Linked DNA regions of Homo sapiens. The protein of the gene in region 1 purifies or fractionates together with the protein of each later gene. This does not show direct contact. Each region holds a gene or a part of one and is shown on either strand. Other genes may lie near its edges.

Region 1 (5,464 bases):
AATTCACTACAGGTTTTTTGTTACTTTTAAAGGGAATATGGATAAGCATAGTAACAAAACCCACCAGAATCTAAGCAGTTTTCACCCCCTCAGAAACCACTGTCATTAGTTTACAAAGTTAGCACTTTGAAGTAAAACTAAATGAGGAAGGAAGTAATGTTACCTATCCTTGATACCATGACCATTTATTAGATGTTTTGCTATATAAATTACCGAGAGAATAGTTTGTCATCCACTTAGTGTGTTAGCTGGTGGGGTACAATATAACCTCTCATCTCAGGCTATTTTAAAAAAACAATATTTGCTTCTATAACAAAAGGAAACAAATCTAAGAATCATTCCTGTACTACAGAAGGGTTAAGGCAAAGGTAGCCTTTTGGGCTTTTTAATGAATATGACCCCTATAGAAAAGTCAAGAAAAAAAAACCCTTGTATAAATTATTTTATTTATTATTGTAATTAGATCTTCACAAAGTTGTCTTTTCACTGTGTTTTGTCAACGTGAAATTAAATTGTAGTTATAAGCAAAAGTTGGTTGCCTAGGGAACAATTGTATATTCAGTTTAACAGAAATAAAAGAATATTTGTCTTAAGATGCAAGATTTGTTTTTACATAGCCTTTTGCCATACAATTATAAAAATTTCATTTCAAAAGTGAAATTTTTTTGTGCTGTTTTAGCTTTAAGGGTTGGAATGTTTAGGTGCAACATCAGCTCCTTAAAGAAAAAGCAAAGTGATCTAGGATATGTCTCCCTTGCAAGAGGGAATTAACATTTACAATTAACATGAAAATCATGTATCAGACTTCTGCAGGAGATTCTTCAGCATACCTTATCCAAAAATTACTCACTGTCCTAATGTATCATTTTGAAGAGTCCTGGTAAGTACTTCTCCTTGGCAGCCTCACCTTCCCACATCATGGAAGTACAGGTTTGCACATATACACAACATGATGATAGAAAATATGATATAGTAAATTAGCTTTCTAAATTTCGGTTCTAAGTCTCCTTGTCGATACCAGTAGATCTAAAAGAAGAATTAAAGTTTATAAATTAAAATTTGAAATATAACATTTTCTCTACCAATTTCAAATTTCATTAGTATTTGTTTATTCCCCTAAATGAGACAGACATTCTCCATATTCTGAGGTCTCTACATTCCTGAGATCAGTACAGCCAGAATTTAATTCTTACTCTGAGTTTCCACATCCAAGATCATACTTATTCCTACTTTCTCAGTTTACTTTCCTCTATATTCACACCTGTATACTCCACCAGTCATCTGGCAAGCTATCCAAGAACATATACCTGGGCATACTACTTAACAGGAAAGGAAGACAACATTTAGACTCATGATTCATACAGTTGGTTCAGACCGTAAAATAGGGCTTCCATAATATATTTGGATTAAACTAGTTCATTGTCTGTTAGTCACTTTAGGCTTCAAGCTAGGGGAACAGGAAAGCTCCCAAAGTGGGATGGGCTAGTTCTTCTTCGGGTCATGGGAGTATATAGCAGGATCAGTGAATGAGAACACTTGGAGGTGTCTCCTGGTTTAATTAATTTTAACTCAGATAAGCAAATTACTATTGTTTTTTCTTTTGATTCTGCCTCTAAAGGAACATGAAACAATGTAGCCAACTAATGAATGAACACTGAGGAGCCACCACCATCTTTGTTTCTTCACCATAAAAGAAACATTTGCAGTAAATCAAACATTTTTACAACAACTGCAGCTTTAGATTTCCCAGGAGGTTTTGGTGTTAATACCTCCATTTTGGGAAACAAACATGTAGATTAAACTAATTTTGTAATAATTAGAATTAAATCCAGAGTGCTCTATCTCTTCCCTTAGCAGTAACTGGCATTTCCCAAAGACTGTTGGCCCTTACGTAGTCCTTGAGTGAAGATGAATTAAGTAAATTAAAATCTTTGGCCACCTACGTCTTTCCACTAATTTTTTTTTTTTTTTTTTTTTTTTTTTTAAGCTATCAAGGGAGTGGAATTTCTCTTTGGGGTTACAACTTTGGGATTTAGGAGAAAAGGAGAAGACTCAGATTTTATTGAGAATTCTAACATACTTTTAGGGGGAGGATGAGGATATAATTAAGAGATACCCTTTTGTATAGACCCAAGGCTGAAAATTTTTGTCCTGTGCATTGCAACTTAAACCCTCAAGAACACTGTTTAAATTCTCAACAGTACTTACAAGTATGCAGGCAGTAATACTACTCAAAGAGATGCAGACAGCAAAGAATATATTCAACGGTTTTGGAGGTAGTTGAGGGAAAACAAAAGCACTTATCAGCGTTACCTGTATGAAGAGAAATTATGTAAGGCCTTAACAGTAATTCCAAGACTTGGTAATTACCAACTGGAGTCTAGGCAACAGTACTACAAAATGCTTCATGTTATAAAATTACATCTGCCACCAAGTTTGCTTTCTAGAATGTTAATACAGTAATTATAAATATGTTCGAGTTATTTTAGTACTTCTTTTCTAAACTTTCCCTTACTTATGAAAGGAGAGAAAACATCAGTAATACTAGCTGATGCCAAAATAACTTCATTAACTAAACCTCACTCCCAGGATTAATGATTCTGCTGGTAAAAGTTCTAGCCATTTTGTTATTTTAAATATTTCTAGCAAAATGAATATAATCAAAGCTGGTTTTGCTATAACATTATGAAACACACTGAAAGACTTCTAATGTTGTATAGTTCTGTTTCTAACAGATGCAGCATTATATGCAATCTTTTCATTAAGAAGCCATGGAAAAAAATTCTCTTAAATTTAATGTGCCAGAAAAATGTCAAACTATGGAAAATACAGCTTTTAAAAATTTTATTGTAATAGCTCCCAGATGTATACTGTATACAGGATGTATACAGTACAACTACTATACACTGTGACCAAATCTTTTAAAACTTGACCAAAGGGTAATGGATATGTTCTTCAGGAACAAAATAGAAATGGGGAATTATGGTAGATGACAGAAGGAAGTGGCTACTAGCCACTGACATTTTTACAAATTTACTAGGCAAAACATGGTAAACTCAATTATCTTAAAACGAAGTTGTCTGACTTGTACCATTTCACATATTCAACCTGGGGGTGGGGCAGAATTAAATTAGCTACTCCAATTAGCAACTGCAATTTTGTGGTAATAAAATTAAAAGCACTTATTTAGCTTTTTTTGGAAAGTTAACCATAATTGATAAAGTTTTCAAAACTGGCTAAGAGCCTGGGTGAGGCACAAAATGAGGATACTTACTAGAATCAATAAGGATGTTAAGCTGCCAACAACTAAATTGATGATTCGATCCTGAAAGAGAAAAGAATTTTTAAGCCATATGACTTGGATCCATGTTACCTTCAGTATAGTACAATGCAAGGCATTTGGATGGTTTACTATAAAGAAACCCAAGATCCAGTCCTCTGAGCTTTACACATAAAACTACCAGACAAAGCAAAGTGTACTGAACCATAAGAGTGGAAAATGTACTTTGGGAAAATGGCCAACTGGGGAAGGTTTCTTGAAGGGACAGAACATTTATACTAGAGTCTTGATTGGGTAGTATCAAATGGGTAAGGGAGGCTTACAAATAATGCATGTGCTGCTGAGGATAGCATAAGCCAAAGGAGAAGGACAGGCACTGCAGGAATGGCCAGGCCAGAGCATTGGTTAAAGGTATCAGGAACCGGACTAGATGTAGAGTACCATGATGTGTCTGGAACTATATTTGTAATACAGCTTAGGTATCCTTGTCTAGTCTAAAAATAGATGCTACTGTTAAAAGGGATGGGTCCTAGAGTGCCAAGGCTTGGCACTTGCAATCTTAAGAGACCATCCAGTCCAGTAGTTTTTCCAAGTTATTTAATAGTGAAGGGCTTTAGTATATAAACAAAATATTGGTTGAATGAAGAACCTACCTACTGAGCTTTCTTGTCATTCCCATCCCACCCCAACCAACAAAGAATGTTTGAAAAACTGATCCAATCCTAATTTTACAGGTTAAACTAAATTTAGGCCCAGTGTGGTTAAATTATTTTCTAAGAGTCATAACAAGTTAGAAGCAATTTTGAAACCAGAGATTCCTAAATCCAGGTCACTGGTTAGAAGTAGTTTCAGGTACTACTAAAAAGGTAAAGTATGATAGTGACATGCAGTCTTATTTCTGAGAAGTCAAAGCTGAGTCTTTAACGAATCAGTCGTCTTAAATGTTGTTTTGATAATGGTCTGAGCAGAGAATGGCAGGATATGGAACATGCCGCCAATAAACAAAACCTCAGAGATGGGAAGGACACAGGAACAATCACAGAGCAGCAACCGAATTCTCATTTCCAAGTAGTCGCCTTTTAAGGATAAGAACCCACAGAAGTTAAGAGTCAGGCAAAATTGGGAGGGAAAGAGTAAGAAAGCCAAGTATTGGATGTGTGTGATCTAACCAAGGACAAATCACAACTCTCCAGACCAAGGCCACTGCAACTGAAAGGTTACAGAACAAAAGATACTGGACTCCAGCCACACCCTAACTCCAGAGGACTCAGAAGAGATCTTACCACGACCTCAGCTAGAGAAGCCTACACAGCACACAGGAGCCTGAACTTAGGACCACTTTGTTAGGAAAGGGACCCAGGGACAAGTCACCACTCACTTTAACTTCTTCCCACATGGGACAACATAAAATGTGTAGAGAGACAAAATCCATGGGAGCCCCACTATTTTTGAGAAGCAAGAATATCTGCTGCTCTCTGAGCGCCAGGGATTTCCAAAATGAAGCACTGCATACCTCATAACAGCTCCCACCAATAGAAGTCAAGCCAATATATCACTAATTGCCAAATGACACACAGCAAGTTGCCTACCAGGATCAAAGTAGGAGAAAAATAATGGTAAAAGGATATTAACTATGCCAAGCACATTCACCAATCCTCTCTTTAAAAATTCTAGGATGAAATGGTAATATGACTGTTTCACAGGTAGCAAAACAGGCTCAGGGAAACTGAGAACTTTCCCAAGATCTCAATACCATTAAGTGATAAAGACAAGATTCAGTGCCAGGCCTCCTTTCCCTATTTATGCTTCTCACCCAAAGAACAACCTAGAGTGCTAGTGCTGGTCTAGACAAAGATGTCAAGTGGCAGATGACACCTCAAAAAGCCTATTAGCAAAGTACTACACTGTGCTTACCTTTCAAGAATGATTTCCTCATGGGTGACTTTGTTCCACATTTTTGGATTTCTCCATATAACTGATTTTAATCATCCTGATGAAAATATATCTAAACTTTAATGAATACTTTCCTGCCTACCTTTTAGATAGTCACTGAACAGAATTCCAACAGATTTTCATGAATATCAGTTATTGTTATAATGTAGTGGTCCCCTCTGGGATTCCCAAGATGGGATGAACTATTTCGGACATGGCAGAAGTGTTTCTCAGAATATTTTCTTTCTCCAA
Region 2 (4,508 bases), on another chromosome or scaffold:
ACCATACTTCTGAGCATTTATCCCAGAGAAATGAAAACTGTGTCTACACAAGAACCTGTACACAATTGTTCAGAGCAGTTTCATTTGTAACAGCCCAAACTTGGAAACAACCAAAATGTCCTACTATAGGTAAGTGGTTAAACAAACTGTGATATATTCATACTATGGACTACTACTCAGCAAAAAAAAAAGTAAGGAAAAAAGAACTATTGATAGATGCAAAAACTTGGATAGATCTCAAGGGCATTGTGCTTAGTGAAAAAGCCCTTCTCAAAAGGTCACATCTTGTATCATTCCATTTATATAGCATTGTTGAAATGACAAAATTATAGATATGGAGGACAAATTGGTGCTTGCCAGGTTAGGGACAGTGGGAGGTGGCGGTATGACTAGTAAGAATAAGCATGAGGGAGATGTTTGTTATGATGGATAGGTCTATGTCCTGATTGTGTAGGTAGTTACGCAAATAAACACGTGATAAAATGAGAGCGAACCATTAACACACACTGCACCATTGTGAACTTCCTGATTTTCATATTGTGTCACATAAGAGGAAACCATTGGGGGGACTGGGTGAAGGGCACATGGAAGCTCTCTATCTTTGAATCGTCCTGTAAATCAATAATTATTTCAAAAAATTAAAATGGATGCAAAGCCAAATGTCTCAAACCTCTGGTAGAATTTTCTACATTCTCTATAATAAAACAATACTTTCTCCTTTTAATGGCTCCCAAAATAAGTCTAGTTTTTATTTTTATAGGGTATTTTGCAAACAAAGATAAAACAGTCTTTCAATCACACGCAAAATAATAAACTGTTTTTATCTCAGATCCTGGCATTCCTTTCTCTTCCATCTTCATTTCATCTTCTGGCCTTTCAAATCTCATATTTTGAGTTTTCCAGTTTACCTCTCAGTGACCTGCATTACCCCCCAAAAGTTACTGTTCCCCCATATCTTATTCTTTCATTTCCACAAAATTGTACATTACCTCAGAAAAATTTCAACTAGGTATTAGATGATCTAATACCAGTTAGTTGCAGTGGATATGACTGACTGATTACACCCTTCATTAAAGGTATACTTAACAACAACAAAAAAAGCTCCTTTGCCCAAATTAATATCAATAGTAAAAGCTACAATGTAAGAGAGATTTCTGAGCAGAAAGACCTTTCAAATTCTCCTTGCCTACTCGGAGCCATCCCTTGCCCATTCCTCACTGCACACAAATCCCTCTCACAATGCTCTAGGCTAACTTCAACAACTTGATACCTTACTTCATAAAATAAACATCCCAGGAAAACAACTAACATTTACAACACACTTTGGTTTATGCTCATTAGACTGTAGAATACATAAAAGCAAGTATCTATTGTCATCTCCATTTCGGACATGAGGTAACTTGGACTCGGTTAAGCACCTTCTCAAGATCACACAGGTGAATAGTAAGTTGCTGAACAGGGGCTGTAACTCAGACCTCCTGATTCTCAATCCTAAGTAATGTGCAAACATTTCATCAAACCAAACACCCCATTCCTAATCTGGTAGTAGATTATTTTATAAAAGCTAGGCAAATAGTTGATCCAACTGAACAGAACTGAACCTATCTAGAGTTAAGGTTCTCAAAATGTGGTTAAGCCATGATCGGTAATATGACAGGTAATTCTAAATAGAGATTTCAAAACAGAAAGAACATACTCATATGGGGTTGAAGAACTCAGCTAGCACAGCAGGAAACAGCAAGGAGAGGAGACTATTTACTTCAGCTAATTTTACTACCTTCTACACCTCAGCAACCCAAGTTTGTGATAAAAAGGGCAGAATCATGGTGCTATCATCAAGTCTGAATTTGAATAAATGAATTTGAATCTCTAGTTCTCTCATATTTTGGCCAACAAAAAGAAGACCAAAGTAAGGCTAAGCACAGAAAATCTGAAGAAATCATCCATGATAACGTGATTTAATCTCCTGACTCTCCTCTATTCTCTCCAGAGGGAGCATGGCTGGGACTTGTCATCCCTTGGTCAAAGTGTAAGGTTAAAAAAAAAAAAAAAAAAAAAAAAAAAACACAAAAAACAGAAGGCTGAATAATTGGAAAGAGACTTGAAAATTAGTCACAGGAAAGAAAGCACTTGGATGGCAGCAAACAGAAATGAAGAGTACATTACCCCAGGACCAATCAGCCAAATAAAATGGTCCTTAGACCAAAAGTTTGAGAACCACACAATATACAAATTAACAAGTAATACAAATTAAATAGTAAATGTGTTTTACCATGAAGAGTAGATTAACAAATAGGATAGAAATCACAATCTTAAACTTGCTAAACATTACATCAACATTTATTAATAACAGCCTGCTTTTTGATTCAAAGGAGTACCTATCCCCATTTGGCCTCCTCTCGAAAGAGGATCAGGTTGCACCAGGACAAATAAAAAAAGAAGCTTTCATAGAAGTCTTACCAACACGATATTTTAGCTCGATGATCGTTTCACCTTCTCTGGTTAATTCTGTTACTTCACAAGTGTAGTTTCCTGTGTGTGAGACAGCATCACTCTTATCCATCTTCAAAGAGGCATCTCCTTTTAGTAATTGTGAGACTTCAATTTTTGCACTACTAAAGTCAGTGGGGACAGTGGACTTGTTTAGAGCTCCATCAAAGGTGTAAATATCTCTTCCTTTAAATTTCCACTTTACGTATACTTCAGTAGTGTTTTGTGCCTCCATATTAGTAACAAAGCATGGAATGACGACAGTGTCATTACAAAACGTGAATTCTACAGATTTTGTTTTATTAAATAGTAGCTGAGCTGATCCTGGAAAGGAAAAAGAAAAATGTTTCATTAATTATAGAAGTCTGTACTGTAAGATCTTAGGCATGTTACAAATCCTTAAGATAAACAGCAACATTTCCATTGTTCACTTAAGTAAACAGTATAGCAATGAAGAAGACCTATTAGGTGAAATATGCAAACAAATTATATTTTAATATTAACTTGCACAGCTGGAAGGCATCATTATGACTTTTCTTTATTCATTCTCAATAATACAAAGTATACATTACATGCATCTTGGGAATAAATTCAGCAACTATGTTGGAACATGCAGGTGTAGTATCTGGCTTTGGAAGCTTTGAAGTAATCATTACTGCCTACTGATATATGTAGAAAAATATTGTCCTTATCAAGGTAAAATTTTGAACAGAAAACCAAACCAAATATTTTATTCAGTCTCAACTTCAACACACTGCTAAATAGAACTTGCTGAACTGATATGAAATTTATCTTTATCCTTATGCTGCATTTCCAAAAAAAGTGGCAGGTTCTACTGTACTTTAATATACAAAGTAAATAGGATGAATCAAATCATATCTTTCCACTAGGATGGAAAATCTTAAAATACTAATGAGGAAAAAAAAAACATTATCTGTGGCTACTTTCCCATAGCAAAATATAGGCAGCAATAGACATTTTGTATGGGAGTCTTGAATGACATTTTCCCACCCCCACATTTCATTGACACTACAGAACAACAGTCTCCAAATGTATATTATGGGTATTCTTCCTCCAAGAAACCACAAAACGGTGAAAAAGCTAAGTAAGATGCAAGTTGAAACCAAGAGCAGTTACTGCTAATAAGCATCCTATCTACGCTTCTCAATAGGATAAACTACCAGTTGTTGCCTTATAGAAGAGGCACTGGGTAAATAAATGTAATCACTCATTGTTCAACTAAAATGTACAAGAATGTGTAGGAATTGTAGTTGTCTTCCATATTCTTCAGCCACTCAGCAACTCTTTTACCTAAGTAGCTACTTGGCCTTCCCCTCAAAACATAAACAAAAACAAAACACAAATTACTAACAAATATAAATAAAATATCAACTTTGTTAATAGTTCACACTTAAGATTTACTTCTACATAAACTGGAATAAAAATCAGAGGCATAGAATGTTTCTATTGTAAGAACACTATGTTTACTCAATAAATACCCCATGAATTGAATGCAAGGATGCATACTGGAATATAGGTACTGGACAATGTTCAAAACACCTGAGTAAAAATACTATTTCTGCCCCTTTTTAATATGCTGCCTTAAGCAACTCACTTTTCTATGCCTTGGTTTACTCTCTAAAATAGGAGGATCTCTTAAGTAGGAGGATCAAAAACAAACACCGGGCTACTTCACAGAACTGTGTTGAGCATTAACATGGAAAACATAGCGGCAAGTGCTCTCTAAACAATACTATGCTGTAAAAATGTAGGGTGATACTATAAAAACTAGATAATCTGGCATTTTAATGTAATGATATGGGCCCTCTTTGACTAGTCCAAATTGTTATATTTCTGGGAAATTGCAGTCTGAACCTATATTGTGGGCATCCACAGCTCACCTCTTCCCAGTTTTCTACATTTCTAGCCACCCAAATACTAGGAAGCCCAAGGCAAAACCTGGACTTCCGTTGCATTCTTTAAAACTTTGGAATTGTGAATTATTTCCCCTGAGAGAG

What was found. The genes of interacting proteins can lie anywhere in the genome.
Region 2: the proteins of TMEM243 (region 1) and CD47 purify together in Homo sapiens (affinity purification with mass spectrometry; one large-scale study listed by BioGRID and IntAct). This does not show direct contact.

What each region holds. Positions count from the first base shown.
Region 1 is NC_000007.14:87,195,733-87,201,196, forward strand, and holds the end of TMEM243 (transmembrane protein 243), read right to left. Parts: exon of another isoform or gene 3,326-5,464; coding exon 3,275-3,325; exon of another isoform or gene 2,314-3,274; coding exon 2,209-2,313; coding exon of another isoform or gene 2,083-2,208; exon of another isoform or gene 1,950-2,082; intron 1,027-1,949; coding exon 904-1,026; 3' UTR 428-903; downstream 1-427.
Region 2 is NC_000003.12:108,077,531-108,082,038, forward strand, and holds part of CD47 (leukocyte surface antigen CD47 isoform 1 precursor), read right to left. Parts: intron 2,815-4,508; coding exon 2,461-2,814; intron 1-2,460. UniProt on the Homo sapiens protein: Adhesive protein that mediates cell-to-cell interactions. Acts as a receptor for thrombospondin THBS1 and as modulator of integrin signaling through the activation of heterotrimeric G proteins.